Regions from separate parts of the Homo sapiens genome. Here regions 2 and 3 are each linked to region 1. Evidence: fine-mapped expression QTL. A gene starts in region 1. Each other region holds a variant in brackets. All regions are shown on one strand. Distances are between the middles of the regions. Region 1 holds the start of NAA60 (N-alpha-acetyltransferase 60, NatF catalytic subunit). Region 2 holds the start of MIR6126 (microRNA 6126). Region 3 has its middle 3.6 kb from the start of MIR6126.

What was found. PIP is the estimated chance that this variant, and not a neighbour inherited with it, causes the effect. A credible set is the group of variants that fine-mapping cannot tell apart.
Region 2: its variant is the best candidate, but not a certain one, in a credible set for the expression of NAA60 in testis (GTEx, PIP 0.79).
Region 3: its variant is the best candidate, but not a certain one, in a credible set for the expression of NAA60 in atrial appendage (GTEx, PIP 0.64).

What each region holds. Positions count from the first base shown.
Region 1 is chr16:3,441,972-3,446,120 of GRCh38, forward strand. It overlaps NAA60 (N-alpha-acetyltransferase 60, NatF catalytic subunit), which reads left to right and starts at 1,709. Exons shown (of 8, transcript NM_001083601.3): 1 at 1,709-1,866. ZNF597 (zinc finger protein 597) reads right to left here and starts at 1,533. Exons shown (of 4, transcript NM_152457.3): 1 at 1,389-1,533; 2 at 1,150-1,235. The coding sequence starts at 1,182. RefSeq lists an enhancer at 1,793-1,942.
Region 2 is chr16:3,481,661-3,485,809 of GRCh38, forward strand. It overlaps NAA60 (N-alpha-acetyltransferase 60, NatF catalytic subunit), which reads left to right. Exons shown (of 8, transcript NM_001083601.3): 5 at 842-938; 6 at 1,703-1,937; 7 at 3,039-3,401; 8 at 3,807-4,149. The coding sequence ends at 3,195. MIR6126 (microRNA 6126) reads right to left here and starts at 3,809; the gene lies at 3,721-3,809. The variant T/C (reference allele first, on the strand shown) is at 2,221.
Region 3 is chr16:3,487,041-3,491,189 of GRCh38, forward strand. No RefSeq gene overlaps it. Among named protein-coding and RNA genes, the nearest start is that of MIR6126, 3.6 kb to the left of the region's middle. RefSeq lists an enhancer at 1,049-1,343. The variant C/T (reference allele first, on the strand shown) is at 1,625.

The DNA.
Region 1 (4,149 bases):
TGTCTCAAAAAAAAAAAAAAAAAGAAAAGAAAAGGAGAAAGTTGGGCAGCCCAGGAAGAATCATAAAGAGATAAAGGTTACAGGATTCTCCCAACATCCTTCCCTTTGCTATTTCCTCTCGTCCCCATGACACTCATTGCTAAGCTCACTCCAGCACTTCATCCAGGCCTACCCCACCTTCTCTAACGGTGTGATAAATTAATCACTTGGGATTTATTATTACTCAACGAGTGTGGAGTCTAGAAATGTGCTTAATTTAAAAATTCATTCAAATTGGAGAAGTACCAAATCTGTAATTTTGGGAACCATTCCAGAAAGTCACTTTTAATCCTAGCACTTTGGGGAGCCGAGGTGGGAGGATAGCTGAAGGCCAGGAGTTCCTTGGCAAAGCAGCAAGACTCCATCTCCATAAAGAAGTTTTAGGCCGGGCGCAGTGGCTCACACCTGTAATTCCAGCACTTTGGGAGACCGAGGCGGGCGGATCACAAGGTCAGGAGATTGAGACCATCCTGGCTAACACGGTGAAACCCCGTCTCTACTAAAAATACAAAAAATTAGCAGGGCGTGGCGGCAGGCGCCTGTAGTCCCATCTACTCGGGAGGCTGAGGCAGGAGAATGGCATGAACCCGGGAGGCGGAGCTTGCAGTGAGCCGAGATCGCGCCACTGCACTCCAGCCTGGGCGACAGAGCGAGACTCTGTATCAAAAAAAAAAAAAAAAGAACTTTTAAAAGTAGCCAGACACTGTGGTATGCGCGCCTCTCAGATACTCGAGAGGCTGAGGCGTAAGGATTCCCTGAGTTCCAGACGGAGCTATGATATCAGCACTGCACTCCAGCCAGACAAGCAACACTCCAGCGACAAGGCCAGACCCTATCTCCAAACAAAACAAAACAAACAGATAAGACATTGAGAAACTCTCTCAGAGATTCCTCCACAGGTCCCTGCTCCCAGTTGGTAGTTCTGAAAGAAGGAAGTTGGTAAACCATTATGTGTGTGGTCTTGGAACGAAGAACACTTGGTCAAAGGGCTATTTGGGGCTCAGGAGCACTCCTACCACAACAGGCATGCCCAACTCTCCTCCAAAGGAGGGGGTCAGGCAGAGACCGAAAGCAGCAATAAACTTGGACGAAAAAGGTACCTCGACTCACCTGGGCCTCGGGCGTCGGGGGCATGGACGCCATTTGGCGGGTGGGGAATGCCTTCTTCAAGACGCCACAGGGACTTCGTGACAAAGCTGCGGGGGGAGAGAACAGTTCTTAAAGGGACCAATTCCGCTGCCAAGTTCCTCCACTACCCCTAGCCTCCCTCGATTCCCTCCGAACCCCCCCTTAAAAACCTACGCCGACTGCTCCTCCTCTTGGCCCGGCCTCGAAAGGGGCCCACTTACCGCTCCGCGGTTAATAACAGGCCTCGCGCTCCCTGACAGGAGCTGCAGAAAGCGACGCCCGACCGAGACGCGACGAAGAACGCCACGGCCACTGCAAAACTCCCACGCTCTCATGCTCCTTTACGCAGGAGCTGCGGGAAAAGCCGCCGGAAGCGACCCGCCCTCAGCCCTCTCCGCCATCCTGCCCTTTGATTGGTCGAAGTTCTCCCGAAGGGGAAGTCCTTCTTTTGTGTTGACCAATTGAACACCTTAACCGAGGACCTGTAGCCACTGGGCAGCTGCGAGAGGTAGTTTTCCTCCTTTTCTCTAAGCAACCATTTCCGCTTCCGCTGGCGGGGTCTCCTCCGTGAGCTCCGGGCCTGTTTGCCTGCTGAAGTAGAGTCTTAGGGTGACCCCAGGGGGACGTAATGTTTCCGAGAAGAAGGACAGAAAGAAGACTGGGAGACACCGGAACTCGAAAGAAAATCGGTAACAAAATGTGGGTTCGGCCAACAGTGCCCTGTAGGCCTGAAATTTCGGTCTGGCCAGAGCAAGGTGATTGAGAGGGCGGGGGTTCGGGCCTAGCCTGGGCTTGAGCTGTCCTTTGTGTCTTGAGCGGATGGTGGGGCCGTGGAACATGAAGGAGTATCTTTGTGTACGTTCACAACGTTCACATCGGTGTAGGCCAGGTTGCTGGACTCTGACTCAAAGTGTTATAGAGGCATTACGTATTGTACCCGCAGCTGCAGCCTAAGCGAGCTGCTTCAGCTTCCTAGTCACAGGATCCCACGCGAGAATAGAGCCATAGGTTAGCGTCGCAGGACGTTGTTCGCCCCCGGATACCTCACATGCAGCCTACCCTAGAGCCAGTCATTTCCTATTGTGTGCTGGGGGAGGAGGGAGTGCCCTGGTGTAGGCATTTGGAATTGGAAAATTGAGCTCCTCCCCAAGCTCTGCCACTGATTGGTTGGTAATCTTGGCCAGTTTACAACTTTGCTTTCCTCAGCTGCAAACAGCTCAGAGTGCCTCTCTGGGCTAACTCAGAGGGTAATTTCAAAGATTATAAGATAATGTAAGTGAAAGAAATTGCCAGTTTATAAAGGTGTTTGGGGAAAAAAAAAGACGAAAATGATAGGTACCTTGATAGAAAAGCCTGAAAAGTCTCAACATATTTCCTTATTCCAGTGCCAGGCACATTCCTGTATCTAAAAGCTTAATGAATGGCTGCATGGTTATTAAAACAATATTAGGAGATTTGACAACTTAGGTAATGTGATTTTGTGGAATATCTGATAGGATAGTTTCAGCTACAAGTAACAGAAAACCCACCGAAAGGATGTTCAAAGAGCAGTTACAGGTTGGTTAATTCGGTGGCCCAGTGACAACATCAAGGTCCCAGTGCTTCTCTGCCACCCTAAGCATGTTGGTAACGTTGACAATAGAATCCAGGTAAAATATACAGACATGTATTGTGTCATGTACCCATCCTAAACTAGTTATTACCAAGAATAAATAATTGTTTGGGGCCCATCATGCTTCAGCCCCTGTCACTAGGGGAAGGACCTAGCCTCCCTTGATAATCTACCTGCACAAAATTAGGGCTTTGTTACAAATGAAAAAAAGAGATGTGGAAAATAAGTTAGATAAGAAACTAGCAGTATCTGCCACAAATGATATCTCTTGACAGCTAACTAAGAGCTAGACCTTGTGGGGATGGATCACAAAAGAGGTAGCTGTGAAGTCCCAGTAAAGGTGCTTCCAGGACAGGTGGAAGAATGGTAAGAACAAACTTGCCTACAGGCTAGACCAGTCCAAAGCATATATGTTGAAGAAGAGCTAATAGCCTGTATATGAAGGTGTAAGTAAAGGAGATGTTCATGGTTGAGTCACTGTGGTGTTCACGTAGTCATCTTTCCCTTCTTGGTTTGTGCTTATCTCTTTTTTTTTTTTTTTTTTGAGACAGTCTCACTCTGTAGCCAGACTGGGGTGCAGTGGCACAATCCTGACTCACTGCAACCTCTGCCTCCGGGGTTCAAATGATTCTCCTGCCTAAGCCTCCTGAGTAGCTGGGACTACAGGTGCCCGCCACCACGTCCGGCTAATTTTTTTTTTTTGTATTTTTAGTAGAGATGGGGTTTCATCATGTTGGCCAGGATGGTCTCGATCTCGTGACCTCATGATCCACCTCGGCTTCCCAAAGTGCTGGGATTACAAGCGTGAGCCACCGCGCCCCGCCTATTTAATGCTATTCTTACATCAGCACTGTCTCATTGTGGTCTGAGATTCTCCTTATCTGGATTTGTGGCTCTTTCACCAAGAACAAGAGACTCCCGTGGCTCTCTTCTTTAAATCCTGTTGCCATAATTACAAAGAAATAAACACAGTTTCCAATGCTTTGAAATGAAGCATGTGGTATTAACTCAGTGGATTACCAGAGAGAGAGGGATATACCTGAAATGGGAGAGGAAAAAATCTTCCCTAGACTATCTTTCCTAAGAGCCATCAAAACTATAAACAAGTGGACAAAGAAGGAGGAAGCTTGAAAGCTTTATCTTCCTGAAAATAAAGAGATGACATACAAAGTCCAAGATAGACCAAGATTGAAAAATTAGACCACATTATATCCCTAACTCAATTTTGTAAAAAATCACAAATGCTTGACTGTATACCCACTATATGTTCAAGTAACATGTTTTAATCATCAAAATTTAAAAATCCTTCCACGACAATCTTTTGCAAGTTTTTCCATTTCTGTCTTTAACATGGTACCAGTAATAACAAC
Region 2 (4,149 bases), 40 kb after region 1:
TGAGTTCAAGGTCAGGGCAAAGTAGACCCTGTTAAGAGATGTCAGCTGGGGAACAGACACCCTTCCTGCAGGCCTGGAGTAACAAGAGTGATAAGGACGCCTTCCTCCCTGGACTGACATATCTGGGTGAACTGTGGCTTGAAGAGGGCTGGGAGAGCAGGGAGCCTGGACAGGCTGACCCCAGCCCAGCACGTGGGAGCAGAAAGGCCTTCTTGTTCTTTACGAGTTGGAAGATGATAAGAGCCTCATGCTGATCAGATTCATGACTCCCACCCGGAATTCCATCTCTAGAACCAAGAGATGGTGGGTGGCTTTACGCAGGTGTGGCGGTGTCCTCTGCCTGTGGGGGCAGCAGAAGGGGTTGGACGGCCGCCCAAGTCTCACTCCTCCAAGATCACCTGGGGCAGCGTGCGATTCTTTAACTGAACCTCTAAAACTTTGCATTTGTCCACTGTCCTGCATCCAGGCCTACCAGGTGACATGCGTGCATTCCCATGAGGCCCGCGTGGTGCTGTGTAGTTGCTGCCTTCATGCCATAACTTTACCTTGTGCTGGCATCAGAGCCTCATTCCCGTCCTTGGCTAGGCCTCCCACACACCCCTAGGAGAAGCTCCTTTTGTGTGTGTTCTTCTTTTCAGCTGTTTTTCACCAGAAGGGCATAAACGCTCTCATTTCCTTGGGGAGTGGGGGCCCCTCTCCAGTACCTCTTGATTCTGCCCCTCCCAGTCGGTGTCCCTCTGGCTGTCGTGGGAAGTCGGTGCGGAGCCCGCCTGGGCCGGGCTGTGCAGTGAGCCGTGCACCAGACGTGTGAGCCTGACTTTCTCTCTGACTCTTCCTCTAGGATGGAGATATTCTAGCATCCAACTTCTCTGTTGACACACAAGTCGCGTACATCCTAAGTCTGGGCGTCGTGAAAGAGTTCAGGAAGCACGGCATAGGTAAGGGCAGCCGGGCCCGCGGCTTGGCGCCCACCCCACCCCCTTGCCCTACCCCACCCCCATCCCATCTGCACCCAGTCTCTTCCCTGGCCCCAACAACTCTGGCTCGTGAACATCCCTCAGTCTCATCTTCCATCCTCGTTCCCGTCTTGGGCCAGACCTTCATCATCCCTCCCCTGCCAGCACACCCACCACCTTCAGCCATCCTCTTTCCACATGCCCCCAGGCCTTTCTGCTGCAGCCTCGCTCAGCCCCCAGGATGGAGCTGAGGAAACTGGCACCTCTCACTTCTGCTGCCGCCACACGCACAACTCGTGTATTCACTGCTCACGATTCAGAGTAGAAAGCGTGAACACGCACGAGGAAGCAACACTCACCGTTTCTCCGATGTCCCACCCCACTCGGCCACACGGCCAGTGAGCGGCAGAGTCTTAATTAATTTTAAACCCAGGCCCATCTAGTCCATGTTTTCCTGGGCTCACATTTACCCTGTTTGTTGTCTGAAAGGGAGTCTCCATGCGGGCCCAGCCCATGGGAGGGCGCTACCAGGCCACCTCTGCAGTCCCTCCCAGCAGTCTGTAGCTACCAGGCTCCATCTGGCCATGAGATTTTAGGGACTTTGACAGTGGTGGTGAAGAAAGGCTGGTCTCTGATACGGTGGGCCGAGACATCTCCGAGAGACTCATGCAAAGCCCCCATCCTAGCCCAGTCATCCTTCCTTCCTAACTGCTCTGCCTGCATTACCTTTACCTCTTCTCCCCAAGGTTCCCTCTTACTTGAAAGTTTAAAGGATCACATATCAACCACCGCCCAGGACCACTGCAAAGCCATTTACCTGCATGTCCTCACCACCAACAACACAGCAATAAACTTCTATGAAAACAGAGACTTCAAGCAGCACCACTATCTCCCCTATTACTACTCCATTCGAGGGGTCCTCAAAGATGGCTTCACCTATGTCCTCTACATCAACGGCGGCCACCCTCCCTGGACGATTTTATATCCTTAACTTCTGGGGGAGAGGGACTGTGGCTTCCTGTCCATAAGGTGGCAGAGCCAGTGAGCAAGTTGGAGCTGTGGTCCCCCTCAGATGATGTTCAGGTGGCCAAGCTTATGGATGCTTCTCTCCCTTACCTGATCGTGTTGTGGGTAAACCTGACACACATTTGGGTAAATCGAGTTGCACATATTACCATGTTGCCCAGGCTGGTCTCGAACTCCTAAGCTCAAATGATCCGCCTGCCGCAGCCTCCCAAATTACTGGGATTATAGGCATGAGCCC[T/C]GCACCCAGCTGGAGAGCCTCCTGCTCCACTTGCACTGGGGATCAGCAGTGCACAAAACGGACAGGATCCCCTGTCCTCCCAGAGCCTGTGCTAGCAGAGGGGAAACAAGTGCGGAGAGAAGAGATTTTTACTTTTTTTGAATACTTGGGTTCAAACCTTCCTTATAGGATGCATGACCCAAAGGTATGCCCTTCCCTGCTTCTTCCTCCTTAACTTTCACTGGCCCCTGACAGGTCAGAGGGAAGCCAGGAAACTTTATAATAGTCAGAATGTGGCCCAAAAAAATGCTGTGCGTGTGTGTGTGTGTTTTCAAATTCATGAGTCTAGGATTTATTCATTACATAGAATAATAAGCAGGAAAGAGAGGGGTGACCCCACACTCCACAGGCCGTCTAGCTTATGTGAAGACAGGCATCCAGGGGGTCAGCACTGTTGACCCCCTCCTTGTCATATGGACAGGGCTCTGTCCCTCTTGCTGCCACAAAGGTTGAGAATCTAGGGAGAACCAGAAGCACCTGCCCTTCTGCCAGGCCCCTTCCCCACCCCCCGTGCATCCCTGGGTGTGGTGTCCACATGCCTGCTGCCTCACTCAGAAGGCCCTTCTGTCCCCAGACCCCACCCTCTGTTGTTTTGCACAGCAGAGGCCACTTCGTCTCATGAGCCTTTCCAGCTCTGCAGAGGCTTAGCGGGCTCTCAGCCTCCGAAGCCTGGCTTGCCATCTGCACACAGTCCCACAGGCCACTGCGCGGGCCCCTGATGACTGTGCCCTGGCGAGCGTGGTCAGGGCAAGTCGGAATCTTCCTTAACAGAGCCCCACGGACTACATCCAGCACCTGGGCTCTGCACTAGCCAGCCTGAGCCCCTGCTCCATTCCGCACAGAGTCTACCGCCAGGCCCACAGCCTGCTCTGCAGCTTCCTGCCATGGTCGGGCATCTCTTCCAAGAGTGGCATCGAGTACAGCCGGACCATGTGATGTCGGCTGGGCAGCCGCCACCAGGCCCCACCCTTCGGCCGCCCGCAGAGCCCGCCTTCCTGTCCATCTGACCCCTTCTGTTTTCTGCAAGGAGCTGCCAGCCATCTAACTGGGCTCGTCGGCCTGCCCCAGCTGCAGGCCCGGTGCTACACGGGCTCGGGAACAGAACATCGTGGGCATGCGCAGAGCATGCCCATCCGTGGCAGGTACGCCACAGCAGACACAAAGGTATGGGAGCTTGGTGCCTCCAGCCACAAAAGTGGAAGGCCCTGGATGGGCACAGAGAACGGCAGAGCCGGAAGGGGCCGTGGGGACTGCAGAGTCCACCACCTTATGCACCAGCACAGCCCAGAGGTTTGGTGACTTGTGCCAAGCTAACACAGCAGGCTCCATGGCAACTGGGCTGTGCACCCGACTTTGGATCCATCAGTGCCTTTATTTGTGTGGGGACCGAGAGGCGCCTAGTGGCTGCAGGCAGACACCATGGCCTGGAGAAGGGCTCATGCTCCTGGAGCACCCAGGCCCAGCTGTGTGGCCCATAGGCAGGGTGTGGGGTGGGCAGAGTGTCTCCGCCGGGCCTTCACCCTGCCCTGCTCTTCTCTTTCCCACAGGCTCTTCAGCTCCCCTCCCTGCTTCTGGAAACCTCTGCCTGCTGCCCTGGCCCTGCCCCCCTGCGCATGCACCGTCCCCAGGGCTGACCCAGTGTGGCTGCATTCACTGGGAGGGGCCTGCCCTCACTGGGCCTCTCCCACTCCGCTGCCTGTTCTTGCAGCTCCTTCCTGGAAAGCTGGAGGGGACTTTCTCCTGCAAGGGAGGAACGCAAGTATTATGGACACACTTGACCGTAAAGGCACAGGAGCCTCGGAACAAGGGGGCGCAATAAAGGGAATGGCCCGTCCCCTTCCAGAACCAGCCCAAAGAAGCCTGGGGGGTGAGGAGTGGCCCCCACTCCTC
Region 3 (4,149 bases), 45 kb after region 1:
GGCAAGGCCCAAGGATGGCTTCCAGATAAAGGGGACAGTGGTTTTGTGTGATTAACCCTGTCAGAGAATGAGGACCTTTGGCCAGGCACGGTGGCTCACGCCTGTAATTCTAGCACTTTGGGAGGCCGAAGTGGGCGGATCACGAGGTCAGATCGAGACCAGCCTGGCCAACATGGTGAAACCTCATCTCTACTAAAATACAAAAATTAGCCGGGCGTGGTGGTGTGCACGTGTAGCCCCAGCTACTCGGGAGCCTGAGGCAGGAGAGCTTGAACCCAGGAGGCGGAGGTTACAGTGAGCTGAGATGGCGCCATTGCACTCCAGCCTGGTGACAGAGCGAGACTCCAGAAAAAGAATGTGAAACTGGGGAAGAGGTTCTAGAGTTGAGAAGCACATTAGGTCCTTTTTTCACTGGAAGGTCCCCAGCAGCTGCCCTGTCTGGGCATCTCCCTGGCTGTAGGCCTTGAGCTGGGGCCCAGTCCAGGCAGGCGGCTCCAAGGGTGATTTGGTGCACCCTGCTGTGGAGCCTGAGGTGCGTGCCCACCCAGCACAGACCTGGTGCTTCCGTCAGCCTCTCATGGAAACTTCTGGTCACCCTCAAGGGATGATATTGTTCCTCTTAGAGATGAGGAGAACTGGCTCGGGGGCTGGGAGTTACCAAGGAGCCACAGTTTGTGAGTGTTGGGCCCAGGCCTGGGCCACTCTGAAGCCTGCGTGGCTGCTCTGTTACACCATTCCTGTGCCTTTGACCTCATCCAGTGGCCGGGAGACATGCAACTTGCCGAGGGTCCTCCCAGGAGAGGGTCTGAAGCATCTGCAAGATGGAGTAGGGGTGGACGCTGGTGCCCTGGGAGGCCAGGCAGCTGGGCGCGCTGGACCCATGTCCAAAGCCATGGGGTGAGTGAAACCAGATTAACCCGCTGAGCTTGCCCACGGGAGCGTCTGCTGGGGAGACACAGTCTTGGTTACTCCAGCAAGGACAGTTGCACCTTTGCTGATGAGTCAGCTTGCGGTTAAGAGGGTAACTCTTTGGGGCCCTTGGTCAATCGTGTGACCAGTTAGTAACTTGCCCAGGTGGGGCTGCGGCTCCTCAGGCCCTGCTTCAGTGAGGCCAGGCAGGACTGCCACTGCTCCAGGCCTCTCACCATAGCCCCACCGGACCGCAGAGCTGGGACACAAACGCTCGTGCTCCACTGGGGGGCAGAAAGGGAGTGTGGGACCCAGGGAGAGGTAGGACACACACAGGATGCACCTGGACATAGCACGGAGGCCAGCCCTGAACGGAGCTGGCTCTGCCCCAGGCCTGCTCAGGGGTGGAGCCCGAGGCAGCCTTGGGTCTCCCCGCTCCCTGCACACACCACCCAAGGATCTCCTATAGGGTAGGGGTCCTTCATACTTTCAGGACGGAGACAGACTCCTGGTCTTCCATTCCTAGCCCACCGGCGTTCAGGGACTCACGGGGTAAGGGGCGTGCCCAGGGATGGTCAGTGTATTTTCTTTTTTTTTTTTTTTTTTGAGATGGAATCTCATTCTGTTTGCACTCCAGCCTGGGTAACAGAGTGAGATCTTGGCTCACTGCCAGCTTGGCCTCCCGGGTTCACGCCATTCTCCTGTCTCAGCCTCC[C/T]GAGTAGCTGGTACAACAGGCGCCTGCCACCATGCCCGGCTATTTTTTTGTATTTTTAGTAGAGACGGGGTTTCACCATGTTAGCCAGGATGGTCTCGATCTCCTGACCGCGTGATCCGCCCGCCTCGGCCTCCCAAAGTGCTGGGATTACAGGCATGAGCCACCGCGTCCGGCTGAGGTCAATGTGTATTTTCATGAGCGTCCGCTTGCTCAGGCCAAGTGCTGCTTTCTCCACATCGACTCCCACCCCAGCGTGCCATGATTGTGGCTTTTTTGCCTCTCAGTCTGTTGGAGTGCTTCTCAAAAAGGCTTTGGGAGGTTTTGCGGGAGGGACTGTCTAGAGGCCAATTTAGGGCCAGTTTTCTTTGGGGCCAGCATGTGGCTGCAGCAGATGTCCTCTCGGGTAAGATCCTGGCTACAGCTGTCTGTGGCTGAGTTACAGACTGTCTTTTTTTTTTTTTTTTTTTTTTTTTTTTTTTTTGAAACGGAACCTGCTCTCTCCCCCAAACTGGCGTCCAGTGGCGTGATCTCGGCTCACTGCAAGCTCCGCCTCCCGGGTTCACACCATTCTCCCGCCTCAGCCTCTGGAGTAGCTGGGACTACAGGGGCCCGCCACCATGCCTGGCTAATTTTTTTTGTATTTTTAGTAGAGATGGGGTTTCACCGTGTTAGCCAGGATGGTCTCGATCTCCTGACCTCGTGATCTGCCCACCTCGGCCTCCCAAAGTGCTGGGATTACAGGCATGAGCCACCGTGCCTGCCGGAGTAACAGACTGTCTTAAAGCTTCACAGCCTAAGCAGGGGCCATTCTGTTTGCTTCCAATTCCAGCTGGGACAGGAGTCAGCAGGGACTCCATGTGGTATTAGCCAGGCAGGCTGGCGGGGCTGGAGGACCTGTGTGAAAGATGGCCCTACCCACAGGGCTGCCCACAGTGAGCTCAGCAGTGGCCATGGGCTTGGCTCCTTCCTTCCATGGCTTCCTCAGGCTAGGCTGGTTTTGCACCATACCACAGTCCCAGGGTAGACTCCTTACGGGGCCACTGACCTCCTGGGAAGCTGCCAGGCTTCCTTACTGCCCAGAAGTGACACCCCGCCACTTCTGCCACATTCTACTGGTAAAGCAGGATCTGGAGCCTGTCCCAATTCAAGGGGAGGGGGCTACACAGGGGCCAGAACACGAAGACACGTGGCTCATCCGGGGTAGCAGAAGGGCCACTGACCATAGCCTGGGACCCCCCCCCCCACCCACCCAAAATCTGGAGCCTGGGGCAACCTGTGCTCCTCTCTGAGCCTCCACTCTTTGTTCAGAAGTGAGTGGAGTCCAGGTGCGGTGGCTGATGCCTGTAATCCCAGTACTTCAGGAGGCCAAGGTGGGAGGATCTCTTAAGCTCAGGGGTTCAAGACCAGCCTGGGAAACATAGTGAGACCCTCATCTCTTAAAAAAATAGAAAATCGGCCAGGCGCGGTGGCTCACACTGGTAATCCCAACACTTTGGGAGGCCGAGGAGGGCAGATCACGAGGTCAGGAGATCGAGACCATTCTGCCTAACACGGTGAAACCCCATCTCTATTAAAAATACAAAAAATTAGCCGGGCGTGGTGGCGGGCGCCTGTAGTCCCAGCTACTCAGGAGGCTGAGGCAGGACAATGGTGAACCCAGGAGGCGGAGGTTGCAGTGAGCCGAGATCATGCCACTGCACTCCTGCCTGGGCGACAGAGCAAGACTCCGTCTCAAAAAAAAAAAAAAAAAAAAAAAAAAAAAAAAAAAGCTGGGCATGGTGGTGGCCCACGCCTGTAGTCTCTGCTACTCAGGAGGCTGAGATGGTAGGGTCACTTGGCTCAGGAGCTCAAGGCTGCAGTGAGCTATGATTGTTAAACATAGGGCCCAGCGTGGAGCCTCACCTATAATCCCAGCACTTTAGGAGGTGGAGGCGGGAGCATTGCTTGAGGCTGGGAGTTGGAGACCAGGGGCAACATAGCAAGACCCTTTCTCTACCAAAAAAAAGTTTGTAATTAGCTGGACATGGTGGCAACTGCCTTTGGTTCCAGCTACTCAGGAGGCTGAGGCAGGAAGATCACTTGAGGCCAGGAGTTCAAGGCTGCAGTGAGTTAAGATCATGCTACTGCACTCCAGGCTGGGAGACAGTGAGACACTGTCTCAAAAAAAAGAAAAGGGGAAAAAAAGTGGATTAGGCCCCTAACGGTCTCCAAGCTCCAAGGACTTTGTATTGCTGGCCTCTGTGCGGCCTCAGTTATGCCCAGCGTCCGCAGCTGGTGGCTGGTGCAGGCGTCCTTCCATGTTTACTCAGCAGCCTCCCTAATGTCAGTCTTTAAGTGGTCTCTTGGATCCACCTGGCCTCTGCGTCTCTGGGGAATGAGTGTTGTGGGAGAGAGAGAAGGCAGCTGCCCCTCCGCCACCCCATGTGACTCATCAGTGGACCTCAGGCCCGCTGCATCCCACCCACACCTGCCCCATCACAGCTGCTCTTGGGTGCAGCATGTAAACACCTGCTCTCTCAGAGCTC